Linked DNA regions of Homo sapiens: region 2 is linked to region 1. A link means that fine-mapping ties the variant in region 1 to the expression of a gene that starts in the linked region. Tissue or cell type: sun-exposed skin. Region 1 holds a variant in brackets; the other region holds the start of a gene. All regions are shown on one strand. Distances are from middle to middle.

Region 1 (8,102 bases):
TGTCACCCAGGCTGGAATGCAGTGGTGTGATCTTGGCTCACTGCAACCTCGACCTCCCAGGCTCAATCAGCCTGCCCATCTAGCTTCCCAAGTAGCTGGCACCACAGGTGTGCACCACCATGCCTGGCTAATTTTTGCATTTTTTGGAGAGACAGGGTCATGCCATGTTGCCCAGGCTGGTCTTGAGCTGCTGGACTCAAGTTATGTGCCTGCCTTAGCCTCCCAAAGTGCTGTGTTTACAGGTATGAACCACCACGCTTGGCTTTGTCTTGTTCCTTATGAGAAGGTTTTTAACTCCAGTTGAAATTTCTTTGATAGATATAGTCATTCAGGTTATCTATTTTTTGTGAGATTTGGTAGTTTGTATCATTCGAATAATTTTTGCATGTCATCTAAATTTTCAACTGATTGGCATAAACTTGTCCATGGTATTTTCTTATTATCCTTTTTATTTATTTATTTATTTATTTATTCATTTTTAAATTTATTTATTTAAGATGGAGTTTCACTCTTGTCACCCATGCTGGAGTGCAATGGCACAATCTTGGCTCATTGCAACCTCCACCTCCCGGGTAAAGGTGATTCTCCTACCTCAGCCTCCTGAGTAGCTGGGATTACAGGCACACACCACCATGCCCGGCTAATTTTTGTATTTTTAGTAGAGATGGGATTTCACCATGTTGGCCAGGATGGTCTGAAACTCCTGACCTCAGGTGATCTGCCCACCTCAGCCTCCCAAAGTGCTGGGATTACAGGCGTGAGCCACTGTAACTGGCCTCTTTTTTTTTTTAGACAGAGTCTCGCTCTGTCACTCAGGCTGGAGTGCAGTGGCGCGATCTCGCTCACTGCAAGCTCTGCCTCCCGGGTTCACACCATTCTCCTGCCGCAGCCTCCCAAGTAGCTGGGACTACAGGTGCCCGCCACTACACCCGGCTAATTTTTTGTATTTTTAGTAGAGATGGGGTTTCACCGTGTTAGCCAGGATGGTCTCAATCTCCTGACCTTGTGATCCGCCCACCTCGGCCTCCCAAAGTGCTGGGATTACAGGTGTGAGCCACCGCCCCTGGCCCTCCTTCATGATTTTCTATCTGCTGGTTTTATCCATTATTGAGAAACAGATGACAAAAATCTCAACTAAGGTTGTGGTTTGTTTATTCTCGCAGTTCTATCAGTTCTTGCTTCATGTATTCTGAAGCTCTGTTATTAGGTGAACACATGCTTAAGATGGTTATATCATCTTTATGGATGACCCTTTGTCATTATGGAATGGCCTTCTTTACTATCCTATTATTTGATCTGAAATCTATTCCGATAATCATATAGATAAAATAATTATAGACATACCAGCTCTCTTTCCTTTTTACATACTTTCACTTTTAATCTATTTATGTCTCTGTATTTAAACTTGGGTTCTTGTAGACAGCATTTATGTGGTTCTTGCTTTCATATCCAATCTGAAAATCTCTGCCTTTTATGTTATTTTATTTATTTATTTAATTTTTTGAGATGGAGTCTTGCTCTGTCACTCAGGCTGGAGTGCAGTGGCACGATCCCGTCTCACTGCAACCTCCACCTCCCGGGTTCAAGCGATTCTCCTGCCTCAGCCTCCCGAGTAGCTGGGATTATAGGTGCACACCACCATGCCTGGCTTATATTTGTATTTTTTTAGTAGAGACAAGATTTCACCATGTTGGTCAGGCTGGTCTCAAACTCCTGACCTCAGGTGATCCACCCGCCTCGGCCTCCCAAAGTGCTGGGATTACAGGCATGAGCCACTGCATCCAGCCCAAATCTCTGCCTTTTAATTGGATTGTTTAGAACATTTACATTTAATGTGATTAAGATATTGTTGGATTTAAATTAACCACCTTCTATTTATTTATTTATTTATTTATTTATTTTTATTTATTTATTTCAAGATGGAGTCTCGCTCTGTTGCCCAGGCTGGAGTGCAGTGGTGCAATCTCTGCTCACTGCAACCTTCATCTCCCAGGTTCAAGTGATTCTTGTGCCTCAGCCTCCTGAGTAGCTGGGCATGCGTCACCACACCCGGCTAATTTTTGTATTTTTAGTAAAGATGGAGTTTTACTATGTTGACCAGGCTGGTCTCAAACCCCTGACCTCAAGAGATCTGCCAGCCTCGGGCTCCCAAAGTGCTGGGATTATAGGCATGAGCCATCACACCCGGCCGGCTGTTTATTTATTTGATCTGAAATCTATTCTGAAATCTATTTATTTATTTATTTATTTATTTATTGAGATGGAGTTTTGCTCTTGTTTCCCAGGCTGGAGTGCAGTGGTGCCATCTTGGCTCACTGCAACCTCTGCCTCCTGGTTCAAGCGATTCTCCTGCCTTAGCCTCCCAAGTAGTTGAATTACAGGCATGCATCACCACACCCGGCTAATTTTGTATTTTTAGTAGAGACGGAATTTCTCCATGTTGGTCAGGCTGGTCTTGTACTCCCGACCTCAGGTGATCCACCTGCCTCAGCCTTCCAAAGTGCTGGGATTACAGGTGTAAGCCACCATGCCTAGCCTTTATTTTTTAATTGTTTCATATGTTTTTCCTTGTATCTTTTTTTTTTTCTGACTTCTTTTGAATTAATTGGGTTTTTTTTTATGATTCTAGCTTATGTCCTTTGTTGATTTTTTAAGCTATATCCCTTTGCTGTGTTATTTTAGTGCTTAATTTAGGTATCATTCATTGCATTACTTTTCTGTTGCTACCCAAAACATTAAACCGATCTTGGTAATGTAAAACACAAATTTATTATTTTAGAATTTTCATGAGTCAGGGGTTCAGGGTCTCACAAGTGTGGGGCTTGGGTCTCATCTGTGTTTTAGTGTCTTCTTCCAAGCTCATGTGGCTGGTGGCAGAATTTATTTCCTTGCCACTGTAGACTGCATGGTGGCTTGCTTCTTCAAGACCATCAGGAGAGTCTCTGATGCAAGTATCTGACCTTTTTTTAAAAAAGCTTATCTGTTTAGGTTACACTCATGCAGCATAATTTCCCTTTTGATGATCTCAAAGTCAACTGATTACAGGCTTTACTTAAACTTGCAAAACTCCCTTCATCTTTGCCAGATAACATCACCTAATCACAGGAGTGACATCCATCATATTCACAGTCCTGCCTATACCTAAGAGGAGAGGGGATTGTATGGGGTGTGTACACCAGGGAGTAGGAATCCAGGGCCATCTTAGAACTCTTCTGACCACCACAGCTTGATCCCAGTCTCCCTCCAGGTGATAGTGAGAGGTGAAGCCAGCTGGACTTCCTGGGTCCAGTGGGGACTTGGAGAACTTTTCTGTGTCTAGCTAAAGGATTGTAAAAGCACCAATCAGCACTCTGTAAAAACGCATCAATCAGTGCTCTGTGTCTAGCTAAAGGATTGTAAAAGCACCAATCAGCACTCTGTAAAAATGCACCAATCAGTGCTCTGTGTCTAGCTAAGGGATTGTAAAAGCACCAATCAGCACTCTGTAAAAATGCACCAATCAACACTATAAAATGGACCAATCAGCACTCTGTAAAATGGACCAATCAGCAGGACATGGGCAGGGACAAATAAGGGAATAAAAGCTGGCCATCCCAGCCAACAGCGGCAACCTGCTGGGGTTCTCTTCCAGCTGTGGAAGCTGAGTTCTTTTGGTCTTCACAATAAATCTTGCGGCTGCTCACTGTTTGGGTCCGCGCCACCTTTAAGAGCTGTAACACTCACCGTGAAGGTCCGCGGCTTCATTCTTGAAGTCAGCGAGACCACAAACCCACCGGAAGGAAGAAACTCCAGACACACCACCTTTAAGAGCTGTGTAACACTCACTGTGAAGGTCCATGGCTTCATTCTTTTTTTTTTTTTTTTTTTTTTTTTTTGAGACGGAGTCTTGCTCTGTTGCCCAGGCTGGAGTTCAGTGGCGCGATCTCGACTCACTGCAAGCTCCACCTCC[C/G]GGGTTCCCGCCATTCTCCTGCCTCAGCCTCCCGTGTAGCTGGGACTACAGGCGCCCGCCACCATGCCCGGCTAATTTTTTTTGTATTTTTAGTAGAGACGGGGTTTCACCGTGTTAGCCAGGATGGTCTCGATCTCCTGACCTCGTGATCCGCCCGTCTCGGCCTCCCAAAGTGCTAGGATTACAGGCGTGAGCCACTGCGCCCGGCCCATGGCTTCATTCTTGAAGTCAGCGAGACCACAAACCAACCGAAGAAACTGTGGTCTCAATAGTGTGCTGCTGCATATATAGCATGAAGACATCCTGCCAGTGGCGTTCATGCTCCACTCAGCCTTGTGTTTGTATCACTTTCCTAGGGCTGCCTTAACAAAGTGTCACAGACTGGGATGGCTTAAAACAACGGAAATGTGTTCTCTCATTTGGAGTTCTGGATCAGGGGCTCATGGGACACATTCCCTCTGAACCCAATAGAACCCTTCCCTGCCTGTTCCCAGCTTCTGGCGGCTTGTTAGAAATCTTCTGCATTCCTTGGCTTGAAGCCGCATCACTCCAGTCTCTGCCCTCAGTGTCACATGGTGCTCTTCCTGTGTGCCCACGTCTTCTAAGGTCATTAGTCATGTTGGATTAGGAGTCCACCCCACCCCACTCCACTCCACTCCAGTGTGGCCTCCTCTTCACTCATTACATTTGCAGTGACCCTATTTCCAAATAAGGCCTCGTTTTGGAGATATTGGAGGTGAGGACTTCAGTCATCTGTTTAGGAGGGACTCAGTCCAACCGACGACAATGCTAGTGTTGTCATACATCTCTTTTCCACATATTTATAAACCCCACACTACAGTATTATTTTTGCTTTAAACACTCAAGTATGTTTTAAAGGCATTTTTTAAGTCTTTTATGTTTACCTGGTAGCTGCCATTTCCTTTGTCCCTGATCCCGGTGGGATTGCAGCCCAGCAGGACTGGCACATCCTGGGGAGGCACTGCCTGACTGCCAGTGATGGGAGGGGCAGAGCCCCAGGCTAGTAGTCCGCAGCCACGTGGGGTTCCTGTTCGTCCTCTTGCTCCTGCATTTAGGACAGGTACCCACCTGGGCGTGACGCATTTCGAGTTTCGTGTGAACAGTGATTGATAGTGCCCTGCGTGGTGATCCCTCCCATTTCTAGTTTTGTGTGAACATTGATTGATAGTGCTGTATGCGGCGATCCCTCTTGGTGTTTCTTTGCAATTGAAATTAAAGGGTTAGTGGGTGAAGAGGGGCACAGGTGGACTTTTCAGGGTCTGGAAATGTTCTGCTTCTCAATCTGGGTGCTGGTGGCCTGGTTCACTTCGGAGATCTCATCTAGCTGCACGCTTCAAGCTTGTGTGCTTTCCAGGATGTAGGTTATACTCCAGTAAAAAGGTAAACAACACAACCACAGCCATGCTGGCTGAAAAGAGAAGCTGGAGGCACCAGGGCCCCTGCTTGTGGCAATGGGTTTGGCCGTTCCTTGGGCAGGAGCCAGGTCCTGGGGTGCTCCCACCGATGGCCAGTCTGGGGCAGCGGCTTTGCTCCTGGCACCTCTGGGCAGGGACCTGGGACTCAGGAGCAATGACATCTCTGAAAGGACTCTGCAAACTGTGAAGTGAGGTACACACATGTCAGACTGCAAATTGTTAAGTACTGTGCACATGTCAGTCTGACTGCAAACCAAAGCATGGTGCACCGGCCAGTTTGTCTTCTGACTGCTTTGGGTCGTGGAGCTCGTCTCAAACAGCAGCAGTGGTGGCACTGGCTTTAGGAAAGAGGCAGCTTTGTGGCTGTCATAAATCTGACAGCAGCGGCCAGGCCACCCTTTCCACCAGCCTGCATGTGCACAGCTGACTTGGAGTCAATCAGACCTGCTCTTTGTCGAACTCAAGCATGCCCTAAATGCTTCTACTTGTTATTACCTCCACAGACTGAGAGTGGCTGGAGAGAGAGGCAGCTGTGCCCGCTGCCTTTTTGTGTAATTGGCTGCTGGCTTTCCCCCCAGAGCTGCTGGTGGATGTGCTACAGGCAGTGTGAGCAGGCCACCGCCTCCCAGGGCTTGGGGTGGCCCTGGCCTGCCCCCGCCTAGCTGGCAGCTCCATCACTGCACTCCACCTTCTCTCTGCCCACTCGCCCGGTCCTTCCTTTCCTTTGTGCTTTTCTTTCTGTTGGTAAAAGTAATAAAAACTCGTTGACGGACGCAAAGCCAGGAATGTAGAGAGGGTAAAGGAGGAAACTGACACCTCTTACTCCCCCAGTTCCACATCATGAGTCTGCTATCATTTAATGTACACGACTTATCTCTGGGTACACGGAGATGTACGTTTTTGTTTTGCAAAGATCCATTCATCCGAAGCATAGTGTGCATTGTTTGGCTTCTCTCCTTCAGTAGCTCAGAGCTTCTTCCTCAGGGTTCCTTTCAGTATTCCTTGAATGGAGAGACCACAGTTTGCATACCTGACGCCCAGTGGCAGGACGCGTCTCCTTCCCAGCCTCTCGGCAGCGTGGGAGCCTCCTCACCCTGGCAGCTGCTGTATTGATCACTGCTTTCTTGCTGGGTTAGCTCCTTAGGGTAATTGCTGGGTCTGAGGTCAAAGGTGTCGGTGCAGGCTGGTGCAGGCTGGCTTCTGCCTTCACGCCCCTGTCCTGGGTTGGTCTGCTCAGCACACCATGGGTTCCCTGGGCTGCTCCACTCCCTGTGCACCACTGGCCCATCCATCGGCCCTTCTCTCCTGAAATGCTGCCCTCTGGGCTTCCAAGCCCCCTCCTGTCCCTGGGCTTCCTGCTGCTCTTACCTCCCACCACCCTCTACTCCCTTCTCCCTGCAGCCTCCCTCATCTCAGACAAGTCACCCAGGTGGGTAACGCACAAACCCCGGGGGCTGAGTGCTCCCTTTATGTCAGCAGTCCCCCTCCTGCATCCAAACATCAACACGGCCCATGCACGCCACCCTCCCAATCTGCGCAGAATGCAGGCACTGGGCTGCATGCCCCTGATTCCAGCTCGATCCAGACCCACGACTCTCCCTCCAGCCCCAGCCCGTTCTTCACTCAGCAGGCAGAGACGCTGCAGGACTATCCCATGGTCATAAACCCGCCTCCTCCCGGCCCCAGGCCCCATGGCCGGGGGCCTCCCTCATCCTGCTTCAGCCCTCAGACCTTGCTGTCCTTGGCTTCCTCCCCACTCCGCTCCTTGGCACCTGCGCCCCTCCCCCCCCAAGAACATTCTCCAGTCCCTTCTGCTGTTGAATTTTAGACCAGCTGTCCCCTCCACATATCAGCCGGGGGTGCATTAGGCCCATTTTACATATAAGGCTGTCTGAGGAAAGTGACGCCCCGGGGTCTCATGGCCAATAAGGACCCCGCCCACATCTGCGCCGTGGTCTGCTGCGTGGAAAGCCGGTGATGAAAGCCAGCAGCAGCTGGTGATGGTGCACTTCAGAGCTGGGGTGTTAGGTTCTTTCTATTTCAAGTGGAGAAACCCACCTCAGACTTAAGGACTCAGAAAACGCATTTGCTTCTGTAAATAAAAAGCCCTGGGATAGCCAGTCACGGTGGCTCACACCTGTAATCCCAGCACTTTGGGGGGCTGAGGCGGGCAGATCACTTGAAGTCAGGAGTTCGAGACCAGCCTGGCCAACATGGTGAAACCCCGTCTCTACTAAAAATACAACAATTAGCCTGGAGTGGTAGTACATGCCTGTAGTCCCAGTTACTTGGGAGACTGAGGCAGGAGAATTGCTTGAATCCAGGAGGCAAAGGCTGCAGTGAGCTGAGATCACGCCACTGTACTCCAGCCTAGGTGGCAGAGTGAGACTCGTCTCAAAAAAAAAAAAAAAAAAAAAAAGCCAGCCGGGTGCAGTGGCTCACACGTGTAATCCCAGCACTTTGGGAGGCTGAGGCAAGCAGATCACGAGGCCAGATAGAGACCATCCTGGCTAACACAGTGAAACCCTGTCTCTACTAAAAATACAAAAAAAAAAAAAAAATTAGCCAGGCTTGGTGGTGCACGCCTGTAGTCCCAGCTACTCAGGAGGCTGAGGCAGGAGAATCACTTGAACCTGGGAGGCGAAAGTTGCGGTGAGCCGAGATCATGCCACTGCACTCCAGCCTGGGCAACAGAGCGAGACTCCACCTCAAAAAGA
Region 2 (8,102 bases), 650 kb before region 1:
CCATCACAAAGGGGTTAGGATCTCAGCATAGAAACTTTGGGGGCAGACGAGCATTCAGTCCATAACATGGAGTGTCTTAGCTTGGGTTGCTATAACAAATACCATGCCAGCTGGGCGCAGTGGCTCACGCCTGTAATCCCAGCACTTTGGGAGGCCGAGGCGGGCGGATCATGAGGTCAGGAGATCGAGACCATCCTGGCTAACACGGTGAAACCCCATCTCTATTAAAAATACAAAACTTAGCCAGGTGTGGTGGCGCATACCTGTAATCCCAGCTACTCAGGAGGCTGAGGCAGGAGAATCGCTTGAACCCGGGAGGCAGAGGTTGCAGTGAGCCGAGATCGTGCCACTGCGCTCCAGCCTGGGCAATAGAGCGAGACTCCATCTCAAAAAAAAAAAAAAAATACCGTGTCATAGAGTGGTGGAGAAATTTATTTCTCAGTTCTGGGGGTTAGAAGTCTGAGATCGTGGTGCCAGCATGGTCACGTTATGGTGAGGGTCATCTTACAAGTTGCAGATGGCTGCCCTCTTACTGTATCCTCATATGGCAGAAAATCAGCAAGCTAGCTCTCTGTTCTCTTTTTTTTTTTTTTTTTTTGAGACAGAGTTTCACCGTATCGCCCAGGCTGGAGTGCAGTGGCGCAGTCTCAGCTCACTGAAAGCTCTGCCTCCCAGGTTTACACCATTCTCCTGCCTCAGCCTCCTGAGTAGCTGGGACTACAGGCACCCGCTGCCACACCTGGTTAATTTTTTGTATTTTAGTGGAGATGGGGTTTCACCGTGTTAGCCAGGATGGTCTCGATCTCTTGACCTCGTGATCCGCCCACCTCAGCCTCCCAAAGTGCTGGGATTACAGGTGTGAGCCATCTCTGTTCTCTTAGGCAGTCATTCCATTCATGAGGGCTCCACTCTCATGACCTAATTACCTCCCAAAGGCCCCACCTCCAAATAGAGAAATAGATTTCAACATTAATTTTGGGGTGACAGTCCATTCGTAACGGAATGAACCAGGAGACTGCTGACCAGAACATGGAAAGTGCAGCCTTGTAAACAGTCCGTGTGCTCAAGCCTGGCTGACTGTCAGACACAACAACCAAACCCTCACCTTGACCCCCACCCCCAGCCACACTGGAACCTGAACTGAGAGGCCACCCTTTCCCTGCAGGACCAGCTCCTAGAACAGCGGTTCTCAAACTTGAGCAAGTGTCAGAATCACCTGAAGGGCTTTGTTAAAACACAGGCTGCTGGGCCCCAGAGTTTCTGATGCAGGAAGTCTGGGTGGCTGAGAATTTGCATGGTTACAAGTTCCTGGGTGATGCAGATTCTGTGTGTCTGGAGGTAACATTTTGAGAACTGCTGTTTCAGAAGTTCTCCACATTAAAGTCTACCAGTCCTGACTGGTACCTAAGGGGTCATGAGGTAGTCAGTGCACAAGATAGAAAGTGAAAACACTGTCTTAGAATTTAAAACAATACTTCCTAACACCAATAGGTAGCTTTTGATAAAGGAATTATCAAGCATGGCTGTATTCATTTCTTATTGCTGCTGTAACAGATTACTACAATTTGGTGGCTTAAAACAATGTAAATTTATTATCCTAGAGTTTTGGAAATCAGAAATGGAAGCCCAGGCGCAGTGGCTCATGCCTGTAATCTCAGAACTTTGGGAGACCAAGGCAGGAGGACTGCTGGGGCACAGGAGTTTCAGACCAGCCTGGGCAACATAGTGAAACCCCATCTCTACAAAAAATGCAAAAATTAGCCAGGCATGCTGGTGCACCCCTGTAGTCCCGGCTACCTGGGAGGCTGAGGTGGAAGGTTCACTTGAGTCCAGGAAGGTTGAGGCTGCAGTGAGCCATGATTACGCCACTGCACTCCAGCCTGGGTGACAGAACAGACTGTCTCAAAGAAAAAAAGAAATTAGAAGTGAATCTCACTGGGCTAAAATCAAGGAGCCAGCAAGAGTTGTGTTTTTTGTTTTTTGTTTTGAGATGGAGTCTCGCTCTTGTCACCCAGGCTGGAGTGCAATGGTGCGATCTCAGCTCACTGCAACGTCTGCCTCCCAGGTTCAAGCGATTCTGGGGAGGGGAGGAGGAGGGAAGCAAGGAGAGAGGAACGCAGGGAGCAGAGCCTGACCTGGTCACAGGGGTCTGGGAAAGACAGAGGCTTTGTTAGAGCCGGCAGCTGAGGGCCGAGGCCGAGCAGGGGTTAGGCCAGCACAGGACGAAAAGGAAGAAAGTTCCAGGTGGAGTCTGGTGGAGAAAGACCGACCTGGAAGGCACCAGCATGTGCACGTGGCAACTGAGGTCGAGGACGTGCCTGAGAGAGAGGAGGAAGGTGCCCTGCGGACCGGGTAGGGTGCGGAGGTCGGGAATGGAGAACGGTCGTTGGGCAGGTCCGGGTACCCGTAGCCAGAACCACCCGGGTGTGCGCAGCTCGGCCAGGCCCCGCCTCCCGGCGTCCCCGCCCCCTGCTGGGCCTCTCTCCGCAGCCGCGAGACCCGCGCTTGGCGCATAGGCCGGTTCTAATTTACAAGAACACCGCGGCCTGAGGCCGGAGAGTCCCTTCAACCCGGGAGGCGGCGGCTGCAGGGAGCCGAGACGGCGCCATTGCCCTCCAGCCTGGGCAAAAAGAGCGAAACTCCGTCTCAAAAAAAAAAAAACATGGCCGAAACCAGGAAGCTGCGCGATGGCGCCACGGCCCCTCTTCTCCCGGCCTGTGTCCGGAAGGTTTCCCTCCGAGGCGCCCCGGCTCCCGCAAGCGGAGGAGAGGGCGGGACGTGCCGGGGCCGGAGCTCAGAGGCCCTGGGGCCGCTCTGCTCTCCCGCCATCGCAAGGGCGGCGCTGACCTGAGGCCTCCCCGCAAAGGTCCCCGAGGCGGCGGCGGCGGCGGGCTGTGAGAACCGCAGAAGAACGCTGGGCGCGCAGCGACCCGTCCACCCCCGCGAGGAGAGACTTCCACAGAGGCAGCGTTTCCACAGCCCAAAGCCACGTTTCTAGGGTGATGCAGCCCCAGTAAGTTCCTGGCGGGGAAGCTCACGGCTGTCAAAAGAACTCTTCGCTCCAGCCGGCGCACGAAGGGGAGGAGGGCAGGAGGCTGCCGCCCGCACAGGTCATCTGATCACGTCGCCCGCCCTAGTCTGCTTTTGTGAATCTCCACTTTGTTCAACCCCCACCCGCCGTCTCTCCCTCCCTGCGCCTTCCCTCTAACCTTAAAGACCCAGCTACCTCTACGCAAATGGTAGCTACCTCTGCGCAGGTGGAAGTTGAGTTCGGTTCACGCGGGACCCTCTTCCCTGTGGCAAGCTGCTGAAGGAGACCTGCTGTTACTGCTTTAGCTGCTGTTCTGCTTAATCTCAGACAGCTGGAAGGTAGTATTCCGCCCTCGCCCAGCCACCCGAGTAAATGAGAATGATGACTGACTGAGACCCTGATGGTGGTGGCTTAGGCTTAATCTCAGACAGCTGGAAGGTAGTATTCCGCCCTCACCCAGCCACCCGAGTAAATGAGAATGATGACTGACTGAGACCCTGATGGTGGTGGCTTAGGCAAGATGAACGTCTGAAATGGAGGCCCAGGGCTGCCACGATGGCTCTGTAGTCATCAGGGAGGGAGCTCCTTTTATCTTGTTACCTACTCCCCTCTTGTGCCCCTTTCTTCCCTTGATCTAAGAAGGTTGCTCCGGATCTCGCCATCTGGCCTGCGTTCAATCAGCAGAAGCTTCCTGGAGGAGCAGGAGGAGGCACTGTGCTCGCATCACATACCAGTGGCCAGAAGTTGGCTTCAGGGAAGCTCAGGAAATAGGATGCGAGAAGCCATGAGACCTCCCCAAACTCTGCAGTAACAGAGTCAACAAGACAATGGCTTAAAGATGGAGAGACCAGTTGATCGGTCACACAAGCTGTTCCACGATAATTCTTGTGTCAGAAGGGGAGGCTGACTACCAGGACCACTGGCCCCACTTCCAGCCCCTCCATTCTGAGTACACTTCAGAGGGCTCTGGCAGGGTGAGGGGGTCTTGGTGGTGCCACAGAGAGTAAAGGTCTAGCACACCCATTGTGGAGATATTTCATGGGGACAACCCAGTGACTTCACTTGAAGTAAAGTGGGATTTTCCAACCTTGAGATTCTTATTTTCTTTGGTATGCGTGTGGAAGAAGTATGAAGGTGGGGGTTGGGAGGGAGAGCAAATGAGCTGTGTGTATGAGGAGCTGGGGCCTGGCTCTTGACAATATCACCCACCCCCACCCCAGGCTTTCCTTGGGGCAGAAAGACTATGGCCGGGGCTTTCAGTGTCGGCTCCGAGGTATAGAGGTATAACCAGTGCTTTTGGCTAAGTCACGTCACTGATGAGCTTCTCTTTCCACCTTGGCAAACCAATTCTTCTGTAAAATGGTCTTCAAAGTTTCTTTTTTAAAGCAGAGAAACTTATTTTTCAGATAAAAATTTAGATAGAACTATCGGGGGAACCCGATAGGGGCCAGATATCGGGGGAACCCACCCCCAATATTTCAACATAGGTTCTTTCTATTTTCCATAAATGTTGGCCGGCTGAGAAATAAAGAGTACAAAGAGCGGAATTTTACAGCTGGGCCACCGGGGGTGACATCACATATTGGTAGGACCGTGATGCTCACCTGAGCCGTAAAACCAGCAGGTTTTTATTAAGGATTTCAAAAGGGGAGGGAGTGTACGAACAGGGAGTAGGAACAAAGATCATATGCTTCAAAGGGCAAAAGGCAGAACAAAGATCACATGCTTCTGAGGAAACAGGACAAAGGGCAAAAGGCAGAACAAAGATCACATGCCTCTGAGGAAACAGGACAAAGGGCAAAAGGCAGAACAAAGATCACATGCCTCTGAGGAAACAGGACAAAGGGCAAAAGGCAGAACAAAGATCACATGCTTCTGAGGAAACAGGACAAGGGGCAAAAGGCAGAACTCCTGATAAGGGTCTATGTTCAGTGGTGCACGTAGTGTCTTGATAAACACCTTAACAGAAAACAGGGTCTAAGAGCAGAGAACCGGTCTGACCAAAAATTTACCAGGATGGAGTTTCCCAATCCTAATAAGGCTGAGGGTACTGCAGGAGACCAGGACGTATCTCAGTCCTTATCGCTACCGCATAGGACAGACACTCCCAGAGCAGCCATTTATAGACCTACCCCCAGGAATGCATTCCTTTCCCAGGGTCTTAATTATTAATATTCCTTGCTAGGAAAAGAATTCAGCAATATCTTCCCTACTTGCACGTCCATTTATAGGCTCTCTGCAAGAAGAAAAATATGGCTCTTTTTGCCTGACCCCGCAGGCAGTCAGACCTTATGGTTGTCTTCCCTTGTTCCCTAAAAATTGCTGTTATTCTGTTCTTTTTCAAGGTGCACTGATTTCATATTGTTCAAACACACGTTTTATAATCAATTTGTACAGTTAACACAATTATCATAGTGATCCTGAGGTGACATACATGCTCAGCTTATGAAGATAACAGGATTAAGAGATTAAAGTAAAGACAGGCATAAGAAATTATAAAAGCATTATTTGGGAACTGATAAATGTCCATATTAAAATAAAATCTTCACAATTTATGTTCTTCTGCCACAGCTCCAGCTGGTCCTTCCATTCGGGGTCCCTGACTTCCCGCAACATAGAACCCTCAAATAGATGAAGGTGGAGCTTCTTGGGTAGAGACTGGAGGATTGGGGTGTTGCCCACCGGGCCTTACGGACTCTCCTGAGTGATCTGAGTCACCTCCAAAGAGCTAGGTGTCAACTCCAAAACACCCTGTGTCCCTTTCTTCCATTTAGTAATCGAAGCCTTACCACCAGAGGTTTGGCAGGGCACGTTGAAGGGGTGGGTTGCCCCTCCACACCTGTGGGTGTTTCTCGTTAGGTGGAACGAGAGACTTGGAAAAGAAAAAGACACAGAGACAAAGTATAGAGAAAGAAATAAGGGGGCCCGGGGAACCAGCGTTCAGCATATGGAGGATCCCGCCAGCCTCTGAGTTCCCTTAGTATTTATTGATCATTTGTGGGTGTTTCTCCGAGAGGGGGATGTGTCAGGGTCACAAGACAATAGCGGGGAGAGAGTCAGCAGACAAACACGTGAACAAAGGTCTTTGCATCATAGACAAGGTAAAGAATCAAGTGCTGTGCTTTTAGATATGCATACACATAAACATCTCAATGCTTTACAAAGCAGTATTGCTGCCCGCATGTCCCACCTCCAGCCCTAAGGCGGTTTTTCCCTATCTCAGTAGATGGAACGTAAATTGGGTTTTATACCGAGACATTCCATTGCCCAGGGACGGGCAGGAGACAGATGCCTTCCTCTTGTCTCAACTGCAAGAGGCATGCCTTCCTCTTATACTAATCCTCCTCAGCACAGACCCTTTACGGGTGTCGGGCTGGGGGACGGTCAGGTCTTTCCCTTCCCATGAGGCCATATTGCAGACTATCACATGGGGAGAAACCTTGGACAATACCTGGCTTTCCTCAGCAGAGGTCCCTGCGGCCTTCCGCAGTGTTTGTGTCCCTGGGTACTTGAGATTAGGGAGTGGTGATGACTCTTAAGGAGCATGCTGCCTTCAAGCATCTGTTTAACAAAGCACACCCTGCACAGCCCTTAATCCATTTAACCCTGAGTTGACACAGCACACGTTTCAGGGAGCACAGGGTTGGGGGTAAGGTCACAGATTAACAGAATCTCAAGGCAGAATTTTTCTTAGTACAGAACAGAATGGAGTCTCCTACGTCTACTTCTTTCTATACAGACACAGTAACAATCTGATCTCTCTTTCTTTTCCCCACAGCACGTGCCCAGCTTCCTTTCAAGTCTCTGGCCAATGCAATGTGAGCAGAAGTGAAGGGGCAACTTTCAGGTGATGACTTGGAAAAGAAAGCTTAGTCCTCTGCTTCTCCTGTCACCCGAAAGAGAAACAGAGGCTTGTCTTGTTGAAGCCAGTGTGTTTGGTGTCTTTTTGTATAGTGGCTTAGACAGTGGCCTAACTAGAAGACCAAGGCTCAAAGGAACACATTTTGAGCTTCTCCACAGTTTGAGAACCTCTACATTACCTACACCAAGCCTTCCCCAGCACTCAATTTATGGAAGACCATTTCTCTTCTCATGACACATGTCCTCATGTTGCTTTGGCCTGTTTTAAAGCTTTCTCAACTCCATCTCAATAAAGAAATCTGCAGCTTTGTTGGATGAGAGGATCTAAAAAGTTCGTTCTTCCAATCGGTTGTAAATATAGACACTAATTTATAAACTGACACAGGAACACACAGCAAATTAGTAGAAAATCCGATTCCTGTTCCCTTTTCTCCTTGCATTGTTTCCTGCCAATGCTCACCATTTCTTTATCCTTTCCACTCTTCCTTGCTCCTCCTTCCCTTTAATTTTTCTCTGTTGTGCCTAAATAAGCTGTCCATGCATGGCACTCCATGGGCTCTGATAACAGACTCAACAAGACAATGACTTAAAGATGGAGTGACCAGCTGATCAGTCACACAAGTTGTTCCAGTGTAATTATTTTCACAGGTGTCTCAGTTTGGATGATAAATTATATGAACACTCTACTTACAGAACAAAGACCTTTATTTATGTCTCTCTTGCTTCAAAGTCCAAGGTGAGCATGCCTGCCTGGCAGCTCTGCCTCAATTCCTTTTAAATCATTCCTTTGTCATACTTCAGCACACTGCTGTCATCTGTATGGTTGAGCTGGACTGCTGCCATGTTGAGTCACCAGTGACTTTTTGATTCTTTAATTCCCAGTTTGACTGGCATTCCTCTGTGTGTGTGTATTTAGTTCTATGCAGTTTTATCACATGTGTAGGCTTGTGTAACCACTGCCACAGCCAAGATACAGAACAGCCAAGTTTGTTTTTGTTCACTGTCATCTCTCCAAAACCTAGTGCAATGCCTGGCAAAAAGACACTCAGTACATACTTGTTGATGGGGGAATGAATGAATGAATGGTGTGCTAATTGGGGTTTTAAGATGCAAAACCCAAGCAGTGTAAGTGAGGTACATGTGGCGGTCTAGAGGTAGGACCAGCAGGATAGCTGTGCCGTCTATCTCTGGGCCAGGCAACTGCTGCAGT

What was found. PIP is the estimated chance that this variant, and not a neighbour inherited with it, causes the effect.
Region 2: LINC00847 starts here. The variant in region 1 is fine-mapped to the expression of LINC00847 in sun-exposed skin (GTEx, PIP 0.96).

Annotation. Positions count from the first base shown.
Region 1 is chr5:180,177,978-180,186,079 of GRCh38, reverse strand. All of the region lies in intron 1 of RASGEF1C (RasGEF domain family member 1C), which reads left to right. Among named protein-coding and RNA genes, the nearest start is that of RASGEF1C, 27 kb to the left of the region's middle. The variant C/G (reference allele first, on the strand shown) is at 3,950.
Region 2 is chr5:180,825,975-180,834,076 of GRCh38, reverse strand. LINC00847 (long intergenic non-protein coding RNA 847) reads right to left here and starts at 3,120. Exons shown (of 3, transcript NR_045679.1): 1 at 2,848-3,120; 2 at 1,217-1,404. HEIH (hepatocellular carcinoma up-regulated EZH2-associated long non-coding RNA) reads left to right here and starts at 2,459. Exons shown (of 1, transcript NR_045680.1): 1 at 2,459-4,123. It also overlaps a transcript of ZFP62 not described here. RefSeq lists silencers at 1,745-1,914, 2,355-2,484, 2,845-2,894.